7 linked regions of the Homo sapiens genome follow. The protein of the gene in region 2 interacts with the protein of the main gene of each other region in a pairwise test. Each region holds a gene or a part of one and is shown on either strand. Other genes may lie near its edges.

Evidence for each region.
Region 1: the proteins of RANBP2 (region 2) and FHOD1 interact in a two-hybrid assay, tested with the Homo sapiens proteins (one large-scale study listed by BioGRID and IntAct).
Region 3: the proteins of RANBP2 (region 2) and MYBPC2 interact in a two-hybrid assay, tested with the Homo sapiens proteins (one large-scale study listed by BioGRID and IntAct).
Region 4: the proteins of RANBP2 (region 2) and ARID4B interact in a two-hybrid assay, tested with the Homo sapiens proteins (one large-scale study listed by BioGRID and IntAct).
Region 5: the proteins of RANBP2 (region 2) and PDLIM3 interact in binary tests that used the Homo sapiens proteins (3 or more experiments, as listed by UniProt).
Region 6: the proteins of RANBP2 (region 2) and UBTD1 interact in a two-hybrid assay, tested with the Homo sapiens proteins (one study listed by BioGRID).
Region 7: the proteins of RANBP2 (region 2) and LRPAP1 interact in a two-hybrid assay, tested with the Homo sapiens proteins (one large-scale study listed by BioGRID and IntAct).

What each region holds. Positions count from the first base shown.
Region 1 is NC_000016.10:67,236,944-67,241,116, reverse strand, and holds part of FHOD1 (FH1/FH2 domain-containing protein 1), read left to right. Parts: intron 1-1,662; coding exon 1,663-1,769; intron 1,770-2,149; coding exon 2,150-2,214; intron 2,215-2,231; exon of another isoform or gene 2,232-2,304; intron 2,305-2,669; coding exon 2,670-2,737; intron 2,738-2,809; coding exon 2,810-2,915; intron 2,916-2,988; coding exon 2,989-3,083; intron 3,084-3,348; coding exon 3,349-3,460; intron 3,461-3,547; coding exon 3,548-3,642; intron 3,643-3,734; coding exon 3,735-3,878; intron 3,879-4,002; coding exon 4,003-4,151; intron 4,152-4,173. UniProt on the Homo sapiens protein: Required for the assembly of F-actin structures, such as stress fibers. Depends on the Rho-ROCK cascade for its activity. Contributes to the coordination of microtubules with actin fibers and plays a role in cell elongation.
Region 2 is NC_000002.12:108,763,933-108,768,105, forward strand, and holds part of RANBP2 (E3 SUMO-protein ligase RanBP2), read left to right. Parts: coding exon 1-4,173. UniProt on the Homo sapiens protein: E3 SUMO-protein ligase which facilitates SUMO1 and SUMO2 conjugation by UBE2I. Involved in transport factor (Ran-GTP, karyopherin)-mediated protein import via the F-G repeat-containing domain which acts as a docking site for substrates.
Region 3 is NC_000019.10:50,460,071-50,464,243, forward strand, and holds part of MYBPC2 (myosin-binding protein C, fast-type), read left to right. Parts: coding exon 1-109; intron 110-1,471; coding exon 1,472-1,631; intron 1,632-1,829; coding exon 1,830-1,966; intron 1,967-4,173. UniProt on the Homo sapiens protein: Thick filament-associated protein located in the crossbridge region of vertebrate striated muscle a bands. In vitro it binds MHC, F-actin and native thin filaments, and modifies the activity of actin-activated myosin ATPase.
Region 4 is NC_000001.11:235,317,652-235,321,824, forward strand, and holds part of ARID4B (AT-rich interactive domain-containing protein 4B), read right to left. Parts: intron 1-4,173. UniProt on the Homo sapiens protein: Acts as a transcriptional repressor. May function in the assembly and/or enzymatic activity of the Sin3A corepressor complex or in mediating interactions between the complex and other regulatory complexes.
Region 5 is NC_000004.12:185,518,328-185,522,500, reverse strand, and holds part of PDLIM3 (PDZ and LIM domain protein 3), read left to right. Parts: intron 1-4,173. UniProt on the Homo sapiens protein: May play a role in the organization of actin filament arrays within muscle cells.
Region 6 is NC_000010.11:97,505,102-97,509,274, forward strand, and holds part of UBTD1 (ubiquitin domain-containing protein 1), read left to right. Parts: intron 1-4,173. UniProt on the Homo sapiens protein: May be involved in the regulation of cellular senescence through a positive feedback loop with TP53. Is a TP53 downstream target gene that increases the stability of TP53 protein by promoting the ubiquitination and degradation of MDM2.
Region 7 is NC_000004.12:3,518,624-3,522,796, forward strand, and holds part of LRPAP1 (alpha-2-macroglobulin receptor-associated protein precursor), read right to left. Parts: intron 1,571-4,173; coding exon 1,449-1,570; intron 369-1,448; coding exon 248-368; intron 1-247. UniProt on the Homo sapiens protein: Molecular chaperone for LDL receptor-related proteins that may regulate their ligand binding activity along the secretory pathway.

The sequences.
Region 1 (4,173 bases), on a different chromosome or scaffold from region 2:
GGTCATCCAAGGGCCCCACAGGCTAAACTGTGGGGAAGGAGCCAGGTCAGGCTCTGAGGCAGGCGCAAGGGTTGCTAAACAGAGGTAGGGGTTGAGGCAGGAGCTGGACTCCCTTTTTCTCCAGGGGACCAAGGCCAGTTGGAAGCCCTTGGGCAGGGTCCAGAAGAGGGCAGGGCTGACCAAACAGCAGGACAAATGTTGGAATTGACATGCCCAGTAAGATGGAGACCAGAAGACACCCTGCCTCTCCAGAGGTGGGCTCTCCCTGGGCCAAGGCATCTCAAGGGCCAGAGCCACTTAAGTCAAGGAGACTTTGCTGAACCTGCATATCTGCACTGTGCAATGGAGGGAGGTGTCTGGGAGAGGTAGAGTGCCACCCTCCGACTCACAGGAGTCACCTCCCTCAGGCTTCTCTACAGGCACTTCTCAAGGGGCTAAGTGCCATGCCTTGTGGCGGGGGAGGAGAGCCCGGGGAGGGAAACATGGACACGTGGATGGAGCATGTGCCTGCTTGTTACAAAGGCAGGCTTTGGGGTCCTACTGTAGACTGAGTCAGACTCTTAAGTGTTTTGTTTTGTTTTGTTTTTTGAGACAGAGTCTCACTCTGTCTCCCAGGCTAGAGTGCAATGACATGATCTCGGCTCACTGCAATGTCTGCCTCCTGGATTCAAGCAATTCTCCTGCCTCAGCCTCCCCAGCAGTAGCTGGGATTACAGGCACCCGCCATCATGCCTGGCTAATTTTTGCATTTTTGTAGAGACGGGGTTTCACCACGTTGGCCAGGCTGGTCTAGAACTCCTGACCTTAGGCGATCCACCCTCCTCAGCCTCCCAAAGTGCTGAGATTACAGGCGTGAGCCACCACGCCTGGCCTAAAGTTAGTTTTTTAATAGGCCCCTTGGGTGTCTCTGAGGTCCAGCTAGGACCATTGTAACTGTAGCCCACTTTGGGAGAGGCCAAAGACCCTGAAATCTGGTGGGACTGGGAAGTCTATGGATCAGACCCTGTCTTCACCCTCTTACTCACTGAGACACACACACACACAGACACACTCTCCCGGGTGGGTTTGCACCTCCCAGCCATCTTAACACTTTCTTTCTGGGGCTTAATGCTTTGTGACTATAGCTTATCACCCCACAGGGCTGTGAGCTTCCTCGAAGGCAGGAACTTCCTCCCATCTTCTCTCCATTCCCCTTCCTCATCTGTGTTTATTAGCTCAACAAGTCCTAGTGAGTGCTTACTGTGTGTCAGGTGCTATGCCAGGCTCTATAGATACAGCAGGGAGCAAGACAGACGGAGTGCCTGAACGCAGAGAACGCAGCTAGAGGAGACCAGTGGCTCGGATATTAGAATGCTGTGTGGAAGGTCTCGAAAGGGAGCATACACACAGGGTGGAGTGGGTTGCATAGCAACCTAAAGAATAGGTAGGTATCAGCCAGGAGAGGAGATGGTACAAACAAAGGCCAAGAAAGCCTGGTGCCTGACACAGATGGGCTTTGCACATAGTAGGTGCTTGAGAAGCAACTGCTGAAGGAATGCACAGCTGTAGTGCAGACCCTGTGTCTCTCTGCCACCCTTCAAGTGGTAGGTAAGAGGTCAGGGGTCTTCATACATTCGCCTGCCACCTCTTCCTCAGTCTCACAGCTGTTCCCTTTGCCCCCAGTTGGAGGATTGTGCTCTGCAAGTGTCTCCCTCCGGATACTACCTGGACACCGAGCTGTCCCTGGAAGAGCAGCGGGAGATGCTGGAGGGCTTCTATGAAGAGATCAGGTCAGAACTGATGGGGCCAGGGAGGCAAGGTTACCCCCACCCTTGCCAGGGGCTAGCTCAAATGTCAGCAGCTGAGACACTCGATCACTAGCCTGAGCCATGGGTCACCTCCTGCCCCAGGGAAGTGTGCCAGGGGAATTCTAAAGCCTGGCCAGTGTTACCTGCTGCCCAAGGTGGGAGTTAGGGGCTCTCCCACATACCTGAGATACATGTGTTTGCACCAACCCTCTTGTCCGACCAACCCTTGGGTTCTTGGAGGAGCAGCTGGGAGGAACAAGCTGGGCTGGGGCTGGCATGGGGAGGTCTTTGGCTCCCTTGGCTTGTGGGGAGGAATGCTGAGGGATAGGCTGGGAGCTGCTAACAGAGATCCTTGATTCCAGCAAAGGGCGGAAGCCCACGCTGATCCTTCGGACCCAGCTCTCTGTGAGGGTCAACGCTATCTTGGGTGAGTGTGTGAGAGCATCCATGTCCAGCAGCACCTCCTCCCCATAGCCCAGTTGGCTCACCTTCAGGCCTGTGCTGAACAGTGAGCAAAGTAGGTTTAGCTGTATGTGCTCCTTCCTCTCCCTATCCTGACCTCTTCTTCCAGGGCCATGGTGGGAGTGGAGGGGGATTCAAGAATGTTAGAATAGACCAGGCGTGGTAGCTCATGCCTCCAATGCCAGTGCTTTGAGAGGTCAAGGTGGGAGAATTGCTTGAGGCTAGGAGTTTGAGGTTGCAGTGAGCTATGACTGTGCCACTGCACTCCACACTCCAGCCTGAGTGACAGAGTGAGACCCTGTCTCTCAGACCAAAACATATATATTAGACTATTCTTTGGTGGAGAGTTGTGGTTGTATCCAAGCAGAGGAAGACAGTGAGTCTGTGTCCATCAAGGGTTTTATACCCTACCTTTTGCAGAAAAGCTGTATAGCTCCAGTGGTCCTGAGCTCCGCCGCTCCCTCTTCTCACTGAAGCAGATCTTCCAGGTGAGGCCCCGCAGTGGGCTGGGGGTAAGTGTGTAGCCCAAGCTTCCCTAAACTCCCCCATGGTGCCTCTAGGAGGACAAAGACCTGGTGCCTGAATTTGTGCATTCAGAGGGGCTGAGCTGCCTGATCCGTGTGGGTGCTGCTGCCGACCACAACTACCAGAGCTACATCCTTAGAGGTCAGCCCCGCCCCTCTCCCATGACCTCTGCTCCAGCGACCCTCGCTGACTCTGCCCATCCCTGTTTCCCCAGCGCTCGGCCAGCTGATGCTCTTTGTGGATGGAATGCTGGGGGTGGTGGCCCACAGTGACACTATTCAGTGGCTGTACACATTGTGTGCCAGCCTGGTAAGTGGCTCTCCACTCAGCCTTATACCCTTTGCCTGTTGCTTCTCTCTGGGCCTCAGTTTCCTGTTCTGCAAAGTGAGCTGGAAGGGAGTGAGTCTGAGGCCTCTGTAAGCCTATAAGGCACTTCAGTGCCTGGGCCTGGGGCCAGGGTCATTCTGCCTAGATTCTCTCTGGGTCCAGCCCCAGCAGCCCTTCCCCTTCCCCAGCAACAGCTGGCACAGGTCTGGCCTAAGCCCCACTCATATGTACTGACCTCTCTCCTCAGTCCCGCTTGGTGGTGAAGACAGCCCTGAAGCTGCTGTTGGTGTTTGTAGAATACTCCGAAAACAACGCACCGCTGTTCATCCGTGCAGTGAACTCTGTGGCCAGCACCACCGGTCAGAGACTGTCCCTTTCTCCCCCCACCGCTCAGAGCCCTCTCTCCTACCTGTTCCCCCATGACTGCTCCACTTTCTGTGTGGCAGGTGCTCCTCCCTGGGCCAATCTGGTGTCCATCCTGGAGGAGAAGAATGGCGCTGACCCTGAGTTGTTGGTGTACACGGTCACCCTCATCAACAAGGTGTGGCCAAGGACTGGGTGCCAGCTCTGGGATGCTCAGGCTCCTGACCTCCCCACCAACCTCAGCCTTGCCTTCTTATCCCCGCCCTCCAGACGCTGGCGGCGCTCCCGGACCAGGACTCCTTCTACGATGTGACGGATGCACTGGAGCAGCAGGGCATGGAAGCGCTGGTCCAGCGCCACCTGGGCACTGCGGGCACTGACGTCGACCTGCGCACGCAGCTTGTGCTCTACGAGGTGGGCCGGGCCTTACGCTCTGAGGCGGATTGGAAAGAGGGAAGAGAGAAGCGCAGTCCCCAGCGCCCCACCCCACCTGCATACACGTTAACCACTTTCTTACATCCTGGTCCGCCTCTGCTAGAACGCCCTGAAATTGGAGGATGGAGACATCGAAGAAGCCCCAGGCGCTGGTGGGCGGCGGGAACGACGAAAGCCTTCTTCTGAGGAGGGCAAGAGGAGCCGCCGTTCTCTGGAAGGCGGGGGCTGCCCCGCGCGTGCCCCGGAACCTGGGTAAGTACGAGCATCTGTAGAT
Region 2 (4,173 bases):
TTTACTTTCCATGGTCCAGGGAAATCAGTATTTGGAACACCCACTTTAGAGACAGCAAACAAGAATCATGAGACAGATGGAGGAAGTGCCCATGGGGATGATGATGATGACGGTCCTCACTTTGAGCCTGTAGTACCTCTTCCTGATAAGATTGAAGTAAAAACTGGTGAGGAAGATGAAGAAGAATTCTTTTGCAACCGCGCGAAATTGTTTCGTTTCGATGTAGAATCCAAAGAATGGAAAGAACGTGGGATTGGCAATGTAAAAATACTGAGGCATAAAACATCTGGTAAAATTCGCCTTCTAATGAGACGAGAGCAAGTATTGAAAATCTGTGCAAATCATTACATCAGTCCAGATATGAAATTGACACCAAATGCTGGATCAGACAGATCTTTTGTATGGCATGCCCTTGATTATGCAGATGAGTTGCCAAAACCAGAACAACTTGCTATTAGGTTCAAAACTCCTGAGGAAGCAGCACTTTTTAAATGCAAGTTTGAAGAAGCCCAGAGCATTTTAAAAGCCCCAGGAACAAATGTAGCCATGGCGTCAAATCAGGCTGTCAGAATTGTAAAAGAACCCACAAGTCATGATAACAAGGATATTTGCAAATCTGATGCTGGAAACCTGAATTTTGAATTTCAGGTTGCAAAGAAAGAAGGGTCTTGGTGGCATTGTAACAGCTGCTCATTAAAGAATGCTTCAACTGCTAAGAAATGTGTATCATGCCAAAATCTAAACCCAAGCAATAAAGAGCTCGTTGGCCCACCATTAGCTGAAACTGTTTTTACTCCTAAAACCAGCCCAGAGAATGTTCAAGATCGATTTGCATTGGTGACTCCAAAGAAAGAAGGTCACTGGGATTGTAGTATTTGTTTAGTAAGAAATGAACCTACTGTATCTAGGTGCATTGCGTGTCAGAATACAAAATCTGCTAACAAAAGTGGATCTTCATTTGTTCATCAAGCTTCATTTAAATTTGGCCAGGGAGATCTTCCTAAACCTATTAACAGTGATTTCAGATCTGTTTTTTCTACAAAGGAAGGACAGTGGGATTGCAGTGCATGTTTGGTACAAAATGAGGGGAGCTCTACAAAATGTGCTGCTTGTCAGAATCCGAGAAAACAGAGTCTACCTGCTACTTCTATTCCAACACCTGCCTCTTTTAAGTTTGGTACTTCAGAGACAAGTAAAACTCTAAAAAGTGGATTTGAAGACATGTTTGCTAAGAAGGAAGGACAGTGGGATTGCAGTTCATGCTTAGTGCGAAATGAAGCAAATGCTACAAGATGTGTTGCTTGTCAGAATCCGGATAAACCAAGTCCATCTACTTCTGTTCCAGCTCCTGCCTCTTTTAAGTTTGGTACTTCAGAGACAAGCAAGGCTCCAAAGAGCGGATTTGAGGGAATGTTCACTAAGAAGGAGGGACAGTGGGATTGCAGTGTGTGCTTAGTAAGAAATGAAGCCAGTGCTACCAAATGTATTGCTTGTCAGAATCCAGGTAAACAAAATCAAACTACTTCTGCAGTTTCAACACCTGCCTCTTCAGAGACAAGCAAGGCTCCAAAGAGCGGATTTGAGGGAATGTTCACTAAGAAGGAGGGACAGTGGGATTGCAGTGTGTGCTTAGTAAGAAATGAAGCCAGTGCTACCAAATGTATTGCTTGTCAGAATCCAGGTAAACAAAATCAAACTACTTCTGCAGTTTCAACACCTGCCTCTTCAGAGACAAGCAAGGCTCCAAAGAGCGGATTTGAGGGAATGTTCACTAAGAAGGAAGGACAGTGGGATTGCAGTGTGTGCTTAGTAAGAAATGAAGCCAGTGCTACCAAATGTATTGCTTGTCAGTGTCCAAGTAAACAAAATCAAACAACTGCAATTTCAACACCTGCCTCTTCGGAGATAAGCAAGGCTCCAAAGAGTGGATTTGAAGGAATGTTCATCAGGAAAGGACAGTGGGATTGTAGTGTTTGCTGTGTACAAAATGAGAGTTCTTCCTTAAAATGTGTGGCTTGTGATGCCTCTAAACCAACTCATAAACCTATTGCAGAAGCTCCTTCAGCTTTCACACTGGGCTCAGAAATGAAGTTGCATGACTCTTCTGGAAGTCAGGTGGGAACAGGATTTAAAAGTAATTTCTCAGAAAAAGCTTCTAAGTTTGGCAATACAGAGCAAGGATTCAAATTTGGGCATGTGGATCAAGAAAATTCACCTTCATTTATGTTTCAGGGTTCTTCTAATACAGAATTTAAGTCAACCAAAGAAGGATTTTCCATCCCTGTGTCTGCTGATGGATTTAAATTTGGCATTTCGGAACCAGGAAATCAAGAAAAGAAAAGTGAAAAGCCTCTTGAAAATGGTACTGGCTTCCAGGCTCAGGATATTAGTGGCCAGAAGAATGGCCGTGGTGTGATTTTTGGCCAAACAAGTAGCACTTTTACATTTGCAGATCTTGCAAAATCAACTTCAGGAGAAGGATTTCAGTTTGGCAAAAAAGACCCCAATTTCAAGGGATTTTCAGGTGCTGGAGAAAAATTATTCTCATCACAATACGGTAAAATGGCCAATAAAGCAAACACTTCCGGTGACTTTGAGAAAGATGATGATGCCTATAAGACTGAGGACAGCGATGACATCCATTTTGAACCAGTAGTTCAAATGCCCGAAAAAGTAGAACTTGTAACAGGAGAAGAAGATGAAAAAGTTCTGTATTCACAGCGGGTAAAACTATTTAGATTTGATGCTGAGGTAAGTCAGTGGAAAGAAAGGGGCTTGGGGAACTTAAAAATTCTCAAAAACGAGGTCAATGGCAAACTAAGAATGCTGATGCGAAGAGAACAAGTACTAAAAGTGTGTGCTAATCATTGGATAACGACTACGATGAACCTGAAGCCTCTCTCTGGATCAGATAGAGCATGGATGTGGTTAGCCAGTGATTTCTCTGATGGTGATGCCAAACTAGAGCAGTTGGCAGCAAAATTTAAAACACCAGAGCTGGCTGAAGAATTCAAGCAGAAATTTGAGGAATGCCAGCGGCTTCTGTTAGACATACCACTTCAAACTCCCCATAAACTTGTAGATACTGGCAGAGCTGCCAAGTTAATACAGAGAGCTGAAGAAATGAAGAGTGGACTGAAAGATTTCAAAACATTTTTGACAAATGATCAAACAAAAGTCACTGAGGAAGAAAATAAGGGTTCAGGTACAGGTGCGGCCGGTGCCTCAGACACAACAATAAAACCCAATCCTGAAAACACTGGGCCCACATTAGAATGGGATAACTATGATTTAAGGGAAGATGCTTTGGATGATAGTGTCAGTAGTAGCTCAGTACATGCTTCTCCATTGGCAAGTAGCCCTGTGAGAAAAAATCTTTTCCGTTTTGGTGAGTCAACAACAGGATTTAACTTCAGTTTTAAATCTGCTTTGAGTCCATCTAAGTCTCCTGCCAAGTTGAATCAGAGTGGGACTTCAGTTGGCACTGATGAAGAATCTGATGTTACTCAAGAAGAAGAGAGAGATGGACAGTACTTTGAACCTGTTGTTCCTTTACCTGATCTAGTTGAAGTATCCAGTGGTGAGGAAAATGAACAAGTTGTTTTTAGTCACAGGGCAAAACTCTACAGATATGATAAAGATGTTGGTCAATGGAAAGAAAGGGGCATTGGTGATATAAAGATTTTACAGAATTATGATAATAAGCAAGTTCGTATAGTGATGAGAAGGGACCAAGTATTAAAACTTTGTGCCAATCACAGAATAACTCCAGACATGACTTTGCAAAATATGAAAGGGACAGAAAGAGTATGGTTGTGGACTGCATGTGATTTTGCAGATGGAGAAAGAAAAGTAGAGCATTTAGCTGTTCGTTTTAAACTACAGGATGTTGCAGACTCGTTTAAGAAAATTTTTGATGAAGCAAAAACAGCCCAGGAAAAAGATTCTTTGATAACACCTCATGTTTCTCGGTCAAGCACTCCCAGAGAGTCACCATGTGGCAAAATTGCTGTAGCTGTATTAGAAGAAACCACAAGAGAGAGGACAGATGTTATTCAGGGTGATGATGTAGCAGATGCAACTTCAGAAGTTGAAGTGTCTAGCACATCTGAAACAACACCAAAAGCAGTGGTTTCTCCTCCAAAGTTTGTATTTGGTTCAGAGTCTGTTAAA
Region 3 (4,173 bases), on a different chromosome or scaffold from region 2:
GAAGGAGGTGTGGGGCACGAACGCGCTGGTGGAGTGGCAGGCCCCCAAAGATGATGGGAACAGTGAGATCATGGGGTATTTCGTCCAGAAAGCAGACAAAAAAACCATGGTGAGAGAGCAGAGGGGGAGATGGGGAAGAGCCGGTGAGGTGGGCAGAGCAGGTGCAGATGTCCCCCGTTCACAGCTGGAAGGGCAGGGAGGGGCCCAGAGGCTAGAGGACGGGCTGGGGCCAGGAGGGAAGCCTTTTAGCTGAGACTTGGCACGTGATGGGTTTTCATTTTCTTTTTTCACTGAGGTAAACGTCACATAACGGAATTAGTCATTCATCGTTTTAAAGCGAACAATTCAGCAGCACTTAGGACATCTGCAGGGTTGTGCAGCCACCGCCTCTACCCAGTCCATTTTCATCCCCCAGAGGAAGCCCTGTACCCAATAGCGCTACCCCCTGGTCTCCCCTGGCAGCCACCGATTTGCTTTCTGTCTCCCTGGATTTACCTACTCTGGACATTTCATACACATGGAATCCTAGCTATGTGACCCTTGTGTCTGACTTTGTTAGCTCAGCACAACGTCTTTGAAGTTCATCCATGCTGCAGGGTGCCGGGTGTGTCCATGCAGAAATCCTGTTTTTAGAATTCTTTTTTTTGAGACAGGGTCTTACTCTGTCACCCAGGCTGGAGTGCAGTGGTGCAATCTTGGCTCACTGCCTTCTCTGCCTCTGAGCTCAGGTGATTCCCCCCCATCTCAGCCTCCCATGTAGCTGGGAATACAGGCACGTGCCACCACATCCCGCTAATTTTTGTAGAGACAGGGTCTCAGTATGTTGTCCAGGCTGGTCTCGAACTCCTGGACCCAAGTCATCCTCCCACCTTGGCCTCCCAAAGTGTTGGGATTACAGGCATGAGCCACTGCACCTGGCCTTTATTTCTTTTAAATTTTTTTTTTTTTTTTGAGACAGGGTCTTACTCTGTCACCCAAGCTGGAATGCAGTGGCATGATCATGGCTCACTGCAGCCTCCAACCCGCAGGTTCAGGCAATCCTCCTCCCTCAGCCTCCCAAGTAGCTGGGACTACAGGTGCTGGCCACCAGACCTGGCTAATTTTTTGATTTTTTTAACAGACAAGGGTCTCGCCGGGTTGCCCACTCTGGTCTCAAACTCCCAGGCTCAAGCGAGCCTCCCACCTCGGCCTCCCAAAGAGCTGGGATTACAGGCATGAGCCACGGTGCCTGACCCCTTCTTAGCGTTGAATGATGTTCCTTTGTCTGGGCCGACTGTTTTGTTTGTCCATCCCTGCGCTGATGGGCGCTGGGTTGGTTCCACCTGTTGGCCACTGTGAGTAGTGCGCCATGAGTGACATTTTTTTAAACACTGGATGTGCTTTTCTCACCCCTTCTTTCGTCTGTGTCTTGTGTGTAATCGTGTGATCCTGTGGCCCCGACCCGCCTGGTCCCTCCCTGTCCCCACACTAGGAGTGGTTCAACGTCTATGAACGTAACAGGCACACTAGCTGTACTGTGTCCGACCTTATCGTGGGCAATGAATACTATTTCCGAGTTTACACCGAGAACATCTGTGGGCTCAGTGACTCACCTGGTGTCTCCAAGAACACGGCCCGCATCCTCAAGACAGGTACAGCCATCCTGCCCCACAGCCCAGGCCCACCCCGTCCACCCTCTCGCCCAGGTCCCACCTGGACTCCTGCCCTCCCCTCCCCACTGGGGTTGACGGCACCTAGTCATGGGAGAGAGGTGATTGCGGTTTGTTCCCTGGTTGGTGTCAGGGGAGAATCTAGATCAGTCGCCTTACGGGTGCATCCTCTCTCCCCAGGAATCACCTTCAAACCGTTCGAGTATAAGGAGCATGACTTCCGGATGGCTCCCAAGTTCCTGACACCTCTCATAGACCGCGTGGTCGTGGCTGGGTACTCGGCAGCCCTCAACTGTGCTGTCAGAGGCCACCCGAAGGTGCCAGGGCAGGGACCCAGATCTGCGTGTGTGTTGCCTTGTGGGGAATCTTCCATACAATGAAGCCCACTCCCCATCACGCCAGTTCTTCTTCCCCGAGTTCTCTGTCTCAAGGGATTTAGTCACTTAAAAAATTTTTTTAATTGATTTTTGATTTTTTTTTTTTTTGAGACAGGGTCTTGCTGTATCACCCAGGCTGGAGTGCAGTGGCACGATCACAGCTCACTGCAACTTTGACCTCCTGGGTTCAAGTGATCCTCCTACCTCATCCTCCCGAGTAGCTGGGACCACAGGCATGAACCACTGTGGCCAGCTAATTTTATAATTTGTAGAGATGGGGTCTTGCTATGTTGTCCAGGCTGGTCTTGAACTCCTAGGCTCAAGTGATTCTCCCGCCTCGGCCTCCCAAAGTGCTGGGATTACAGGTGTGAGCCACCACGCCCAGACTGGACTTGCTCACTTTTCACCCACTTCCTGTTAGCTCCTCTGACCAGAGCCCAAGTCTCAGACAATCAATCACATCTTGCCTTTGGCTTCCTGCCTTTTTCCTTCTTTCTTTCTTTTTTTTTCTTTCTTTCCTGAGACCAGGCTGGAGTGCAGTGGTGCGATCTTGGCTCACTGCAACCGCCTCCCAAGTTCAAGCGATTCTCCTGTCTCAGCCTCCTGAGTAGCTAGGATTACAGGCGTGCACCACCATGCCCAGCTAAATTTTGTATTTTTAGTAGAGACGGCGTTTTGCTGACCTCAGGTGATCCGCCTGCCTCAGCCTCCCAAAGTGCTGGGATTACAGGCATGAGCCACCGCTCCTGGCCTCTTGCCTTTTTCTTTGTCCCCTGACTGCCAGGTAACAGCTTGTCTCGGCAGCTTGAGGAGAGGACCATTAAGTCTCTCTTGCTCTGTCCAAGGACAAATGCCAGTCCCATGGAAAAAGAAACGTTGGGAGCAGGGGCAGCCTAGACCAGCACGGCTCCCCAGGGTCTTCCTGTCCAGCCATTTTCCAACTGCTCTTTGTGAACAGGGACACTTGCAACCTAGAGCTCATTTAGACCAGGGGTTGGCAAACCATCACCCATGGGTCAAATCCACCCACCACCTGTTTCTCTCAATAAAGTTTTATTGGAACACGGGCCAAGCATATTTGTTTATGTTTTGTTTACAGCTACTGCAGACAAAATGTAAATAAATGTGCGTGGCTCGCGTTCCAGGCCCAGAGACTACAGGGCCCAAAAAGCCTGAATTATTTACCATCTGGTCCTTTATAGGAACAGTTTGCCAGCTTCTGGTCTGGGCTGTAGGTTATTCGCTTCAGCCTCCTTAAGGCATACCATGTCTCCATCTCTGTATACTGTATTCACTAACTCCACTCATTCATGTCACTCATTCCACTCATTTATCCACCTACCAATCCATCCATTTACTCAGTTCATTCCTTCACTCCATTTGCTTATTTACAGCACTGTTTCGTGCTCTCATTCATTTATTCACTCCATTTATTCTTACAACAAACATTTTCAGAGGCTTTCAATGACCTGGGTGATTCGAACAAGAAATTTCCTGTATGTTGGGGGAGACTGACATTTGCCCAGAGTCACATAAATAATATAAAATTATGAAGGGCTGGGCCAGACACGGTGGCTCACACCTGTAATCCCAGCACTTTGGGAGGCCGAGGCGGGCAGATCACCTGAGGTCAGGAGTTTGAGACCAGCCTGGCCAACATGGTGAAACCCCATCTCTACTAAAAATACAAAAACTAGCCAGGCATGGTGGCAGGCGCCTCTAATCCCAACCACTTGGGAAGCTGAGGCAGGATAATTGCTTAAACCCGGGAGGTGGAGGTTACAGTGAGCCAAGATCACGCCACTGCACTCCAGCCTGGGAGACAAAGCGAGATTCTGTCTCAAAAAAAAAAAAAAAAGGGAAGGGCACTATGGAAGAGGGAACAGCCAGTGCCAGCGTCCTGAGGTGGGTGCCTGTCTGGTCTGTTTGAAGGACAGTGAGGTAGCCTGTTTGGCTGGAGCAGAGAAGTAATGGGGGTCAAAGAGTGTGGGACCCTGTGGGCCACTACAAACAGTGAGCTCTTTGTCCTGAGAGCAATGGGAAGACCCCACCGTTACCCTGTGAAGTGGGATTATCAACCTGCTTTTACATAAGAGGAGACTGAGGGTCAGGGAGAAGTGACTCGTCCAAGAACATCTGGCAAGAGG
Region 4 (4,173 bases), on a different chromosome or scaffold from region 2:
AATTTTAGAACGAAAATTATGATTTCTAAAAGCACATTATTTTCTACGGAAACCTTGAATACCAGAGTTTCCTGTACTCCTAAGAGATCCAAAGAGCCAGGAATTTCTACCTGTTTTGTTCCCTGACATATTCCAACTGACTAGAACAGAGACCAATACATAATAAGTATTCAATAAATATTGAATTAATTTTTTAAATGTCCAACTCCTTGGTGGCCACTTGCCACAACACAAAATACATGAAGTTAAATACTCAGCACTCCCCAGGTTATCACACAGGTAATATTAGTACCCTAAGAACTGAAAGGTCCACTCCCAGGACCCAAGAGAATTAAAAATACATGTTCGCACAGAAACTTACATACAAATGCTCATAGCAGCATTACTCACAATAAGCAAAAAAGCAGAAATAACCCACATGTCCTCCAAATAAGTAGACTGACAAAATGTCGTATCTTCATAAGATGGACTATTATTCAGCAATAAAAAAGAGCATAGTATTAACACTTGCTACTCCTTTTTTTTTTTTTTTTTTTTTTTTTTGAGACGGAGTCTTGATCTGACACCTAGGCTGGAGTGCAGTGGCGCCATCGCAGCTCACTGCAACCTTTGCCTCCCAGGTTCAAGCAATTCTCTGCCTCAGCCTCCTGAGTAGCTGGGATTACAGGCGCCCACCACCACACCCGGCTAATTTTTTTATTTAGTACAGATGGGGTTTCACCATCTTGGCCAGGCTGGTCTTGAACTCCTGACATCGTGATCCACCCACATCGGCTTCCCAAAGTGCTGGGATTACAGGCGTGAGCCATCGCGCCTGGTCAACACTTGCTACTTCTTTCACTTATGGGAAGTAAAAGAAATCAGACACAAAAAGGCCACATATGTATTACAGGATTCCGTTAACAGAAAATGCCCAGAATACGCAAATCCTTATAGACAGAAAGTAAATGCTAAGCTCAGTGTCTGAATCTTGTAATCCCAGCACTTTGGGGGCCAATGCAAGAGGATCACTTGAGCTCAGGAGTTCCAGACCAGGCTAGGGAACATAGTGAGACTTCACTACTACAAAAAATTCCAAAATTTGCTGGGCATGGTGGCGCACACCTGTAATCCCATCTACTTGGGAGCTGGAGGCAGGAAGATCGCTTGAACCCAGGAGGTCGATGCTGCAGTGAGCCATGGTCGAGCCACTGCACTCCAGCCTGGGTGACAGAATCAAAACTCTTCTCAAAAAAAAAATTTAGATTAGTTACTGGAGGGATAAAAGAAAGGGAGAACAGTGAATGACTGCTAATGGATAAGAAGTTTCTTGTTGGGAATTTGGAAATGTTCTGGAGTTAAATAGCAGTGACAGATAGCTAGGGATAAGTAACGTGCCTGAAGTCTCAGCTACTCAGGAAGTTGAGGGGGAAAGATCACTTGACCACAAGAGTTCAAGGCCAGCCTAGGTAACACAGCAAGACCTCATCTCTAAAAAAACAAACAAAAGAAATTAACAAAAAAGTTTTCAAAAGATAGTAGTGATGGATGCACAAACTTGTGAAAATACTAGAAATTTATGAACACTTTAAAAAGGTGAATTTGGTGAGGCGCGGTGGCTCATGCCTGTAATCCCAACACTTTGGTAGGCCAAGATGGGAGGATCATTTGAGCCCAGGAGTTCAAGACCAGCCTGGGCAACACAGTGAGACCTCCACAGAAAATTTAAAAGTTAGCTGGGCATGGTGCCGTGCACCTCTGGTCCCAGCTACCTGGGAGGTTGAAGCAGGATCACATGAGCCCACTGAAGATCAAGGCTGCAGTGAGCTGTGATTGCGCCACTACACTCCTGCCTGGGCAACAGACTGTGGCCATGTCTCAAAAAAAATAAAATAAAAGGGTGAATTTTATGGTATGTGAATTATATCTCATTTTTTTTAATTAAAAAAACAAGTGAAAGGATTGCTCAACTCAATGTTCACTGCTCACTGAGAAGGCTAAGATTTGACAATGCCTTCATGGTCATACTCAGTTCCAAGAATCCCATCTACCAACTAATCACAGCAAAAAGACTTTTTTAAAAAAAGGGAGGACGGCCAGGTGCAGTGGCTCACACTTTGGGAGGCCAAGGCGGGCGGATCACTTAAGGTCAGGAGTTCAGAACCATCCTGGCCAACATGGTGAAACCCCATTGCTACTAAAAACACAAAAAAAAAGGCCGGGCGAGGTGACTCACACCTGTAATCCCAGCACTCTGGGAGGCCGAGGCAGGTGGATAACAAGGTCAGGAGTTTGAGACCAGCCTGGCCAACATGGTGAAACCCCGTCTCTACTAAAAATACAAAAATTAGCCAGACATGGTGGCACATGCCTGTAGTCCCAGCTACTTGGGAGGCTGAGGCAGGAGAATCGCTTGAACCTGGGAGGCAGAGGTTGCAGTGAGCCGAGATCGTGCCATTGCACTCCAACCTGGGTAACGAGCGAAACTCCGTCTAAAAAAAAAAAAACAAAAAATACAAAAAAAATTAGCCAGGCGTGGTGGCAGGTGCCTGTAATCCCAGCTACAGGGGAGTCTGGGGCAAGAGAATTACTTAAACTCGGGAGACAGAGGCTGCAGTGAGCCGAGATCACATCACTGCACTCCAGCCTAGGCAACAGAGAGAGGCTCCGTCTCAAAAGAAAAGGAGGGAGGGCACTTGTGGGAGGACATACATGTGCAAGTTGCAGTAAGTAGAATTTTCCCTTCACACCCAATCCATTGAAATCCAATCATCCCCATCTTCAAATATATTCCCAATACTACTATTTCTCCTCACCACCATCTCTCCCCAGGACTAGCTTGACAGCCTTCTGACTGATCTCCCTACTTCCACTCTTGTGTTCCCATGATCTGTTCGAACCCATGATGTGTTCACTACCCAGCAGTCAAACATTTTTGAAAATGTTTATCACATCACTTCACTCAACACCCTTCAAAGGGTTCCTAACACATTCAGATTTTACTCAAGTCCTTACCATGTCCTATAAGGCCCTACAATTGTACTGGCCCTTTGTGACCCTCTCTGACCTCCTCTCCTACCACTCCAGCCCTGATGGCCTTAATGTTCCTTAAATGTATCACACTCAAACATGCCAAGCACACTCCATCTCAGGGTATTTGCACTTGTTTTCTGCAGGGAATGCTCCTCCCCCAGAAACCTGAATGGCTCACTCTATCACTTGTTTCACAGCACACTTAAATGTCATCTCGAAAAGGCCCTCCATTATCACCTAATCTAAAGTAACCCACCCTCTGTCACTCTAACCTCTTATTCTGATTCCGTATCATTTCTCTTCAAAGCACTTAGCATTATTTTTTTTCTTAACGTGTGTCCACCATAGTAGAAAGTAAACTCCACGAGGGTAAGAACTCTTGTTCTATTCACTGCTGCATCCTCAAAACCCAGAACAATGTCCGGTACAAGGAAAGTACACAATGTGTTCAATGACTGAATTCACTGGCTGACTTGGCAAAAACATTCTTCAGTGACATAGGTACTCACCTAGTATTTTTTTTAATTACAATAAACAAAGATTTAGCAATTTGGACAGAAAACATGTTAGTATTTTACAAGATTACCTATTCATCTAAAGGACCACAAATTTATAGCACAAAATTTGCCATGTTATGGATCTTAAATCCCTTCAAATATCATAGATATGAGGTTAACATTCACACCAGATTAACCAAGCCTCTGACTTCATCCTACCTACTTACTCTTACATCTTAACTAGCAGGTCCAATGACAGCATGCTTCAAATGACAGTAACATCTATCTAATTTCCTAAGAAAAAAACCTCCATCTTCTTCCTACCCCAGGATGAGTTACTAGGTCCTGAATTCTACTTCTTTTAAGACAGACTCTTGCTCTGTCGCCCAGGCTGGAGTGCAGTGGCGTGATCTCGGCTCACTGCAAGCTCCGCCTCCCAGGTTCGCACCATTCTCCTGCCTCAGCGTCCTACAGGCGCCCGCTACCAAGCCTGGCTAATTTCTATTTTTTGTATTTTTTTAGTAGAGACGGGGTTTCACTGTGTTAGCCAGGATGGTCTCAATCTCCTGACCTCATGATCCACCCACCTCAGCCTCCCAAAGTGCTGGGATTACAGGTGTGAGCCACTGTGCCCGGCCCTGAATTCTACTTCAAAAAGGCTCAG
Region 5 (4,173 bases), on a different chromosome or scaffold from region 2:
TTTAGCAGTATTTCCCCTTTCAAGAAAATCAACTCCTGAATTTGTCCTTCAAGTTTTCTACTTGTCTCCATAAGCCTCTGATTTCTTTTGTGAAAAGATGTTGAATAACATCAGTACATGTGTCTCCTAGGGCTTCTCAAAAATTAGAATAAAATAATACAAGCAGAGAAGTTGGCACATTGAGTTATTCATAGAAATACTCAAGTAAGTGGTAGCTGTCCTTATTATCAGTACGTTACCCCCACCCCAGGCTGGGATCCGAAAGTCTCCTGGCGTTTCTTGCTGGTGAGATAGTTAGCTGCCTACATGATAGGACATCCTAGAGGCTAGGAATGCCTTCTTCATTGCTATTACGAGGGTCGTGACAAATGGAACAAAGCTTTATTTTCAGTTAAAATATAATCTCTCCTGGAGAAGAAGGATCCTGAGTAATGTAATCTTTAGAGGAAATGAGTTTATTAGATTGTTGTCGTAGAGTTTTGACTAAAGGGAAGGTAGAGTCTGAATCTAAAATCCACTAAAAGCAAAAGTAGGAGAAAATAAGCCCCAAAAGGAGTGAGCAGGACAGAGAATATGTTCATGAAGGCAGGAACCTTGAGGCTGTTGTCTTCCCTCTGAGTCCCTCCAGCTCAATAAATAGCCCACAGCTCAATAAATAGCTGACAAATGGATGAAAGGAACTGGAGGGCCTAAAAATGAGCTGTGCATTTTCTAACATTGCCAGGACCTGTCCTGGGAGCCAGTTCTCAAAATGGTGTTCTGCCATCACTCTCAGCTGTTGCATGGAAAGTAATCTTGAAAGTTGAGTGGGGCCAGGCGCATTGACTCACACCTATAATCCTTTGGGAGGCAGAGGCAAAAAGATTGCTTGAGCCCTGGAGTTTGAGACCAGCCTGGGCAACATGGTGAGACCCCATTTCTATAAATTTTAAAAATTAACCAGGGCATGTTGGTACACACCTGTAAGTCCCAGCTACACAGAAGGCTGAGGTGGGAGGAGTGCTTGAGCCCAGGATGTCGAGGCTGCAGTGAGCTGTGATTGCACCACTGCACTCCAGCTTGGGTGACAGAGCAAGACCCTGTCTCAAAAAAAAAAAAAAAGAAAAGAAAAGAAAGTTGAGTGGGATACTTAGGCTAGGTAAGACTTTTGCTCTTTGGGGTAAGTGAGCAAAAGAAAATGGATGGCACAGATAATAAATATAATGAGAAGGGATCTGAATGCTGATGGCGACTCCCCCTGACATACTAGGTGGGCTGGTGAATAATGACACCTCTAGTCAACATTTTCTTTGCTAGAAGAAAATAGTGGAAGAAAAAAGGAAAGTTCTTGAGGTAGAGTTCTCACTTGTATCTAGCCTTTTGCAGAGATGCCCAGGCTGACCTGCTTCCTCCCACCGTCATCAATTTATCACCTGGAGGTGACACATGAGAAAAAGAGACTATATGGTGCTTTTAAGAATTAAAGTCAATAGACATGCACTTATTGACCACTCAGCCTCTTATCATTACCTGGACCAACCAGAAGGGACTCTGCATTTCCTTTTCCCTACACAGCACACATCCAATATTGCACTGCATCCTTTGCAACTTATTTTTCCATGCAAGAATTTCTCCTAATTTTTAAACCCAATTTCGTTAATATGAGATGCAAGAAATGAGGCCAACTAGATAGATCTGACCGAAGTACCAAATCCCCAGTGATCCTTCATCATGGTTGCATCCGTCACCCCAGCATGTAAGTAATTCAGCAAGTATTTACTAAGCACAAAGTGAGTTTAGACCAGGATGGGAGCCCACGTTTTGCTAACATCTCTCCAGAATTGGAGTTTAAGGGTAATTTTCCAAGTTGTAGCTCTAGCAGAGGCTTCTATTGCAAGTCTATGAGTATTAATTTATGACTATGGTTATTCTAAGGATGGGATTTTAAGGCATAATCCTAATTTTAAATACTCTGACCTCTTGTCAAGCATGTATTAGCCCTTGTGTCCTACATTTGGGGGTTAGAAAATATGAATATTTACAATACTACAAATGAGAAAAAGGAGATTAAATTGTTTTTTTTTTAAAGGTTGAGATTAGGTTAAGGGCTATAGCAGCCAGTCAGATGGAGCCTTGAAACATTCCATGACTTTGCGTCATGACTAATTCTTACTGACATCCTCTCCAAGAGGCCGGTGTTTGAAATGCTCCAAGATAAGAACAATTCAGTTCTACTAATGAACCAAAGGATTTCTACTCCTTATGAGACTCTTAGGCCAGATTTCTGCACGGCCAGTTTATGTAACTTGGTACTTCAGGACAGACATTCCCTACACAAAAATAACTAAATTGCAGTGTATCTCCTGCTATCCAAAAATCCTTTAGCGTAAACCAGAACAAAACGTGCTGATAAAAGTCAAACAGTGAGTTTCACTTGTGGACTGAGACGAGAGAAAAGCTAAGCTATGGTTATAGGGTTTTTTGTTTTTCTAAGTAATACAAAGCTGTGCAAAAAAGATGTCTTTTTCTTTTTTATCAAAATGACAACTCTGCAAATACAGCAATCTTCTGGACAGCAAATACGTGTCAGTTAGAGAAACAAATGCCATTAATATTATCATGCTTCAGGATGTCATTGCAGATGAATAGCAAAAGGCCATGGAACAATATGAAATTTGAGTTTTTGTTTCTCAACCCAAGTCAAACTTTTATTGTAAGTTATGTGACCTTTGACATTGGAATAAAATACACTTTCTCACTTACTTATTGGGGAAAAAACTATACCATCCAAGCCCAGCCACAGATATTAAATATTAGTATGTTTATTTCTGGGGGTTTTTTTCCCCTGTGAATAGGTTTAAGCTAAGGAGACATTTTCTTATATGGTTATAGGAATAGTTGATATAAAATTTTAATATCTAGATTTTTAAAATGTGGCCGGGCATGGTGGCTCACGCCTGTAGTCCCAGCACTTTGGGAGGCCGAGGCAGGTGGATCACCTGAGGTCAGGAGTTTGAGACCAGCCTGGTCAACATGGTGAAACCCTGTCTCTACTAGAAATACAAAAAATTAGCCAGATGTGGTGGCACACGCCTGTGGTCCCAGCTACTGGGGAGGCTGAGGCAGGAGAATCACTTGAACCCAAGAGGTGGAGGTTGCAGTGAGCCAAGATCGCACCACTGCACTCCAGCCTGGGCAACAGAGTAAGACTCCGTCTCACAAATAATAATAATAATAATTTTTCCATGCTATCATCAAATAGCTAAGTTTTGTTTCTCTGAGTTTAGACTTGAATCTTAGGCTTAAAGGGCACGTTAGTTGTTGTTTAGATCAACTCCCAGCACCTGAATAAATGCCTTCCATGCAATCCTGAACACAATCTATTTTTCTCTATTTTTCTGTACAAAAATAGACAAAATGGTCCATTTTTTAGTACGAAGTGTTGCTCTTGACTAAGAGTATGTTAATGAAGCTCTTTGTCCTTTTTCAAAGCTTACATTCTCAAACCATAACCCTCATATTTGCTTAATGTTAGTGGAACAACTCAAAGGTATACTGTGCCTGTCACAATACAAGAAAGATGCTTTCAGAAACAAAAATGGTTCTTATCTAAATAAGAAGAAAGCTGTCTCCATTTCCATAAAAAGGATTGCATCCTTGCCAGAGAAGATAATAGAGTTTACATACACAGTCAAGAAGAGTGTGGGATAAAGTCATTTTTATTTTCACAAATAAAAAGTGTTTTGGTAACTGGAAGGCAGCCCATATAAAACAAGCTTTCATAGTCACCATTTCCTCAAGCTCTTCCCAGTGAGAGATGGGAAACACTTGAAACTGCTCACTGGAGAAAAAAGGATGATGAGGGTGACTTTACTGTTTATTTGAGGGGTGAGTATGAGGAGGAAGTGATTCTAAACTTCAAACGTGATGAAATATAATTTCTTCATCATGCCTTGATCAAATATAAGATCACTTCATAGAGTTTGTTTCTCTTATATGCCCACCATTTTTTCATATATATATGATTTGATTTTATATACACATATGTATACATATTATATATAAATATATATGTGTATACATATATGTGTGTATATCTATGAATCAAACATACTGTTTCTGTTGGAGATGGTTCAGAATTATAAAGATTATCTGAATCTTTATCTGTGAGCAGTCTCCAAGTAAGAAGTTGAA
Region 6 (4,173 bases), on a different chromosome or scaffold from region 2:
CCTAATAGACTACAAGGGAGGAAGTTAGGTGATGTGGATTCCAGGCATCTCTTACCCATCAACTTGCTGGAGAATTTTTAGAATCATAGAATTTTAGAGCTGAAAAGGAACCTAAAGATTTCTATAACCTCTTTTTTCTTACCCAGCCATTAGAAAGAGAACAAAGGTATGTCTGTCCCCTGCCTAGTTCACAGAAACATGGTGCAACCTACATAAAAACTGCATGTGCTCCTTTAAGTTGTGAGTGTGTGGAGGTCAAGATATTATAGGGAAGTGGTTGAGGTCAAGTGTATTCAAAGGAGAGGAGGTCTAGTCTCTGCCACTTTCTTGAGTGGTAATCTTGGGCAGGTCATTTGTTTCTTCCTCAGTTGATCCCCCGTTTTAAAAAGATAATATTTCCAGTTTCCTTCACAGAGATGTTATGGAGATAAAATAAGCTAATGGTGGTTTAAAAATTACTTTCATGGCTACACAGTGTGCTCAGATATGAGGTCCCAACACAGAGTTTCATCTGGCATTGGTGGAAAATGAAGCCTGGGGTCTCTGCTCCTTCCTAGTTGTTTGTGTGACTTTGGACAAGCCTCTTGATCTCTTTGAGCCTCAGTTTCCCCATTTGTGCCATGAGGTGACTGCCACCCTGATCACCTTTCAGAGAGGTTGTAAGATTAAAGTGAGACCCTGGATGAAAAGAGATTTTGTGATCTTAGAAAGTTTCTATTATTCCAAGCTACCAGGATTTTTACACACAAAAGCCATAGCCAGTGATTTTTCCCACTAGATCATTGAAGCTTACTCTTTTTTAAGGAGCAAAACTATAAAAGAAATGTTTAAAAACTATTTTTGGATGGGAATCTTTCTGAAACGAATGATATGCTTCTGAGCAAAATATTAATATACAGCTCAGAAAGAACCTCTGGTTTGGGACTAGGGGTTGTTGAGTTCATACCGGTGTGTACAGAGCGCCTGCTTGGTGAGAGTGGGACCACAAAAGGTTCTTTCTCTCAAAAGTGTTACCTCCCAAAGAAGAGACCTGGGGTGGGGGAGGGACCTAGTGGTGGGCAGAGGGAAATTGCTGGGGGAGAGCCCACTCCGGGAGTGCCCTGCCTCAAGGTTCCAAGTAGCAACACTGGCACTGCAGGAAGGCTCTTAAATCCTGTTCAAGGCTCTGAGTGGGAAGAGCCAGTCCTACCCGGTCAGTTACTGTGCTTATAGTAGTGTGAGGCCACGGGGCTTGTGAGACTCTAGGGCAGTGGGCCCCAAACTACGTGGTTCCCAGCTGTTGGGCTTTGGGGGTTCATGTTTCCACCTACAATCATTGCTGTGTCTTCTGCCTGGTAGACAGTAGTCACTTCTCTTTTTTTTCTTTCCTTTTTCTTTTTTTTTAAGTGGTTACCTAGATATGACATAAAATTTACTTGTATGTAACAGCAAATTTTTCAGTCTATAGTTTTGTAGCATGAGTACATTCTTTGTATTTATTGTTGTACAACCATCCCAGTACCCATCTCCAGAACTTTTTCATTTTCCCCAACTGAAACTCTTTTACCCATTAAGCACTATCCATTTCTTCATCCCCCCAACCACTGGCAACTGATATTCTGCTTTCTCTTTTATGAGTTTGACTACTCTGGATACCTCATATGAGTGGAATCATGTAGTATTTCTCCTTTTGTGGCTGGCTTGTTTCACTTAGCATAATGTTGTCAAGGTTCCATGGTGTAGCATGTGTCAGAATGTCCTTCCTTTTTAAGGCTGAGTAATATTCCATTGTATGTATATACCACATTTTGCTTATTCATTCCTCCATTGATGGACCCCTGGGTTGCTTCCACCTTTTGGCTATTGTAAATAATACTGCTGTGAACATGGGTGTGCAAACCAGGAGCAAAAGGTGAATGCTCTCTGAGTCTCTGCTTTCAGTTATTTTGTGTATATACCCAGAGGTGGAATTTCTGGATCAAAAGGTAATTCTATTTTTACTTTTTTGAATAACCCCCCATAACACTTTCCTCAGCAGCTGCACCATTTTATATTCTCACCAACAGGGTGCAAGAGTTCCTGTTTCTCTACATCTTCACCAACAGTTGTTATTTTCTGCTTTTTGTTGATTAGGTTTGGATTGGTTTTATAATAGCCATCCTAATGAGTGTGAAGTGGTTTATCATGTAGTGATCATTTATGCTGGGCTCAAAGAGCAGTCCCTCCAAATCTCTGGGAAAACAGACATCTGAGTGTGTTAGAATTGTGCATAGAGGCTGGGCATGGTGGCCTACACCTATAATCCCAGCACTTTGGGAGACCAAGGCAGGAGGATTGCTTGAGGCCAGGAGTTCAAGAAAAACCCGGGCCACATAGTGAGACCTCGTCTCTATTAAAAAAAAAAAAAAATTGGCCTGGGCACGGTGGCTCATGCCTGTAATCCCAGCACTTTGGGAGGCTGAGCCGGGCAGATCACGAGGTCAGGAGTTTGAGACCAGCCTGATCAACATGGTGAAACCCCGTCTCTACTAAAAATACAAAAAAAATTAGCCGGGCATGGTGGCACGTGCCTGTAATCCCAGCTACTCAGGAGGCTGAGGCAGGAGAATCGCTTGAACCTGGGAGGCGGAGGTTGCAGTGAGCCAAGATTGCACCACTGCACTCAAGCCTAACGACAGAGCAAGACTCCGTCTCAAAAAAAAAAAAAAAAAAAAAAAAAAGAGAGGAACCTGGCAGGAAAGGGGCTGGAACACCTTCTGCAAGGTGTGGGGAGGGAGACTGAAGGGACAGGGATGACTCCTCGTTTGTATGTTTTTCCTCTGGAAGTCTTGGGACAAGGAGCAAAGGGTGAATGGTGCCTAGGCAGCCAGTCACTAACCAAGTAGCCTGAATCTTAGTTTCCAGCCTGCGCACTTGGAGTTTTGTTGTTTTTAAAGGCTCAGAGAGATGTAATTAGCAGCAGCTCACCTTTGCAGGGTGTTTGCCATGTACTAGGAGCATCACGTGCAGTATTTGGGTTAATTCTCACAACCACCCTATGGGTGGATTCTGTTATCACCTTTTCACAGATGAAGAAGCTGAGCCTTAGAAAGGTAATGTCTGCTGCCTAAGGTCACACAGCTTGTAAACTGCAGAGCTGGGACTGGAACCCAGGTGTCTGATCTCAGAGCCCACGCTTTGGGCCAGTGTGTAGTTTGTCCTCATGAGAATGGGAAGAAGAGAACGCTTTTTTGTTTTGTTTTGTTTTTTAATGAGTTTATTATTGAGCACCTTCAGGCACCACTTTGCTGGATCCCTTCACAAACATCATCTCATTTGATTCTCCCTATTTTACCTATGGGAACATGCCTACCTATTTTACATATGGGAAAGCTGATGGCCAGGAAAATGAATGGATTGCCAGTGGTTATGATGCTAAGAGACAGAGCTGGAACTCAGCCTGAGGATGTTGATTCATTCCAGTGCTCACAGCTCGTTCCATTGTGCTGTGAGCCCTGACCAGCTCCCACCCCACCCCCATGGAAAGAAGCTGGTAGGTCAGCTGTGAAGTCTGCAAAACTCCAAGGACTATAGCCACTGCTTTCCTTTCACATTGCTGTCCCTTCTTCCTTTAATTTCCCCACCCCCAGACCACCACCTCCACACCTAGAAGCCATGTGAGTCCATCATCTTGGATCAAAGTGCTTGGCACATAGTAGGTGCTCAATAAATATGCGTTGAATGTTGTTTGAGGGCTCGGTGTGCTAGAGGCAATAGAATCTCAGCCAAGATTGTGTTCCTAAAGAGAAACACAAGTAGAATGCAAATATTGTTGTTTCCTCCTCCTTCTCCCAGAGCAAACCTCCGCTTTCCAACACCCAGATGCCAGGGACTTGAAGAAAAGATTGTCCTTGCTCTGCAAACTTTGAATTATTCCCAAATTCCCAAAGGAAAAGAGGCACAGAGAGTCATGTTAGCAAAGTGCTTGCAGAATCAGGTGTCACTCTTCGTAATTAATAAGATTAACAATCTCTTTCTTCTCTCAGCATTTTGCGGTTTTCAAAATGCTTTCTCAAGTATTAGATATCATTTGATCTCCACAGCCATCCTGTTAGATAGGCAAGGCAGGACTCATTTTTCCCGTTTTATAGGTGAGGACACTGAGACTTGGTGAGGATGTTAAGATACTCAAGGTTATTGACTGAATAAGTGGCA
Region 7 (4,173 bases), on a different chromosome or scaffold from region 2:
AGGCGCCGGTGAGACTTGGTTCATCCAATGCAGGCAGGCGACTCCCAGAGCCTGCCTGCACAGCAACCTCCCCACTCACAAGTCCGGTGGAACCCTGGGAGGGCGTCTGGTGCCGCCTCCCTGCCCCTGCTGTGTTCCTGAGGGGAGCTGAGGCTGCCCACTGAGCACAACGAGCCTCAGGTGCAGGAGGGGTGGGGGGCAGGAGGGGGTGGGGCAGAGGGCAGGAGGGGGTGGGGGCGGGGGGCACCTTCGGTCCTGCTCAGGGTCTCCAGCAGGACGTTGTACTCGTGAACTTTCTCTTTGTGATGCAGGAACTCCCGCCAGAGCTTGTCCAGTTCTTCGCCGGAGAATTTCCCAGAGGTCTTCGCCTAAGAGGGAAACAAGGCCTGGAGTGAACCCGCCGCGGGCTCGTGTGGCCAGGGCCGCTCTTCAGCCAACCACTCCTCATGGCCAGGCAGGCCCTTGCCTACGTGAGTGCCAGGCCAGGTTCTTGGCCTCACGAAGGGCAGGAAAACAAAAAACAAACCGGAGAAGAGCTGCCGGCAGGCAACCACCCTTCTCTTGGACGTGTCCAGGCTCAACAGGGGACAGCTACCGAGCTGGCTGGGGTGGGGAGCAGAAGATCCCAAGGAGGGGGACAGGGCAGCAGCCCGGTGACCCCGGGCTTGCCTGGCTCTCCCGGCTGCAGGTGGTGAGGACAGCAAGGCCACCTTCCTAGGGGGACCTCTGCCAGCCCCTCATTGTCATCCCACCTGCCTCCTGGTTGTGAGATGACGTGGCTCACACACGTCCAGGGAGGCCACACAGGGCCCTCTCTCCCTCTCTGCCCCCTTCTACCGACTCCATCTCTCCTGGCCAAGGACATTGAGCTGAGACTGGGCTAGTACAAGAAGTCTAACTGTTGACCCCAAATCAATGTGATCCAGAGAAACTGTTCTGGAGCAGGAGCCGCTGGAAATGGGGGAGCTGCGGCAGGTAAACACCCTGCCACAGCCCACCAGGCCCTGCTGGGTCCCAGCGCCTGGCCCCGCACCCTTCCCAGGCACAGGGTGAAAGCCCAGCCCCACACACGAGGGCACCTTTCTAATCACAGAGGCACGTCCACGGCACCACTCACTACATTAAAAATCCGACACGGAGTAAAGAACGCAGCCCATGCTACGTCACCATCCCGTAACCACACGTGACCTGAGCTGAAGGTCTGACAGCTGCAGGCCAAAGGCCAAACAGAGCTCCTTTACTCAAAGAGCAAGGAATCTTCTAAACAGGAAAGCTGAAAAGATTCACAGAATGACAGTGGAATGGCTTCCTTAGGAAGCCACCGTCTTCCTGAGACTTTCCCAAACCCCGGCTCCCATGCAGAGCAGAGACTGCCCCTCACAGCCCCCGCCTTAACACTCAACGTAACGGCACCAATTCTGCAAGGTATGCAAACAATCGAAGAGTACCTTGTGCCACAGCTTTTCCAGCCTGGGGTCATCCAGCCCGTCTTCCTGGGTGCCACTGAGGGAGTTGCTGGTCACCTGCCGAGCGTCCTTCTTTCCGTCCAGACCATACTTGGCCAAGATGACTAGGAGAGAGGGGAGGTTCTATTTGATATGGTTTCCTGTGAAAAACAGTCAAAAGCCAACACATCTGGGTTGCCACGGTGGGTGAGACAGGTTTGCCTCTCATTTTCCAGTAGTTTCCTTTCACCTGTTTCCTGGATGACCACTGGAGATCTGGGGAGAACAAGAATGTAAACAAGCGTGGGGTCTGTGGTCTCCCAGCACTTAGGAACGGGTCTGGCGACTCACGGGACACCCCCAGGACCTCCCTCTTTCCTACCAGGGACACGCCGGCTGGAGTCCTCCATCAAGCTGTGTCCCCCTGAGACGCAGCTGTCGAAAGCAGCTGGTGGGCTGGGCTGTAAGAGTGGTTACCGATTGGCCCGTCTTTAGCGACCAGCTGCACAGATTTTCAAGAACAAAATTTGCAGCCTCACCTGCTGCCATAGGGCAAAAACTCTAAGGACCACAGGACAGAGGCCACCTGCAGACTGTGCAGGGTGGCAGGGCTTTCTGACAGCACACATCTTATATTTATTGGGAGGAAAAACAGTTTCTAAAGGAGAAACGTCAGTGTCAGCAGCTTCTAACAAAAAGTTACTGGTAGCAGCCAGGAGGAATAAATAGTCTGCAGTGTGCTGTGGCCCAGCCACTCGGGGAGCCCTCTAGGATCTGCCCACGTGGTGCTCCCCTAGCCCCGCTTCCCTAGGGGGGACTCGGCATCTGTGGGCTGTGTCTGTCACCACACGCTGCCACCAACATGATATGAAAGCAGGCGCTCGACGCGGGCCCTGGTGCCAACAGGACAAGTCCTGCACTTGGGATGTGAGAGCAGAGCCTGGGGGCTGGCCTCGCCCTCCACGGCAGTAGCTCTCCCCAGGCCCCAATTCCCACTTCCAAGTCCTGTGCTGTGGCTCTGTGTGACAGGCCCTCTACTAGGTCCCCTGGAATCCGGGGCCCATGCAACCACACCCGCCTCCTTAGCGGGCGGTGGGCTTGCCTGCCCGCCCTTTCCTGGGGGCTGGGGGAATTCTCCCAGGGCCCCGCCTCCCACAGAATGGGGTCCTGCCTTCCCCTCCGGGCCGAGAGGGCCCCGAGTAGGCCTCTCCCAAGATGCTGGGCTCGGAGCCTCCCTTCGCCTCACACTTCCCCTCACCCCGAGGACCTCTTCACCCAGATGGTGACTCCCGGACCCCAGCGCCTCCTCTGGGCCTTCACCCGTGACCCTACTGGACAGAACTACTCCCAGCGGGGCCTCCACATGCTCTGGGCTCAGCAGGCCCCACCCCCGCACCTCTCCCAAAGGTCCATCCTCTGTCACTGCCAGCCCTGGGGAGTGTCCCTGCTCGAGGGACACCCTGAAAGCCTCAGGCCTCCTTTCTCATCGACACCACCCTGGCCTCTGATCCCTCCTGTCTCACTCTGTCCGGAAGCCTGGGCCATGGGGGTCTCAAGGCCACACGCAGCATGTGCTTCTTGTGTTCCAGCCTGGAAGCGCTTGTGATCTTCCTAAGCGTGAAAAACCAGCCTGTGGTCTTGTCCCTGAGGAAAGCCGTCTCTCCTGACAGCAGTCAAGAGCTGCTGGCGCTGGGCACGGGTCCCGTAGATGCATGCTTCAAAGCTCAACCACATGCTGGGCCTGTCTTCCATGGCAGGGAATTTATACCTGAAATAACTATTTTAGGCCGGGCGCGGTGGCTCATGCCTGTGATCCCAGCACTTTGGGAGGCCAAGGCAGGAGGGCCGTCTGAACCCAGGTGTTCAAGACCAGCCAGGGCAGCAAAGTGAGACCCCATCTTTTAAAATAAATAAATAATTAAATAAATAATACCGGCTGTGGGGGATGAGAAAATAAATGAAATAAATACATACAAAAATACACAAACTTTTTAAAAAAGTGGCCTGGATGCCTCCTGGCCTTAGAAAGCCAGTGCCAGGCCTGCCTGTGAAGGCCGTCCTGCCCAGACCCCCAAGTCCAGCCACTGCTCAGCAGCACTGAGGTCCCACCCCCAGGCCGTGCACCCCTGAGCCCGAGAGGAGGAGAGGGGGAGACGGGGAGGGTGGGCCATGTCCTGGGGCTCTGAGGCTAGCCTGGCTCAAGCCTTCCTAGTTGGAGCCAAAAGCTCTGAGCCAGAGCCCAAAGTGGCTGGTCAGACCCCATCAAAAGGCAGAGTACCCACGGCTGCGATCAGCAGCAGGGACTATGGAAGGTTCTGGATTCTGGAGGTGCTGGGTTCTTCTGCATGGAATGGAGTCACAGAGCACTGAAGCTGGAGGCGGCCTCAGGAGCACCGAGCCCTTAGAGCTCCTGGGGAGGATGAACACGGCCCCACACTCCCTGCCTGGGGAGGACGGACGTCATCCCACACGCCCTGCCCGGGGAGGACAGACGCCACCCCACACTCCCTGCCTGGGGAAGTCGGACGCCGCCCCACACCCCCTGCCTGGGGAGGACAGACGCCGCCCCACACCCCCTGCCTGGGGAGGACGGACGCCGCCCCACACCCCCTGCCTGGGGAGGACAGACGCCGCCCCACACCCCCTGCCTGGGGAGGACGGACGCCGCCCCACACTCCCTGCCTGGGGAGTGAAGTGGCCCTGGGGGCGCGGTGGGGGTGAGGACAGG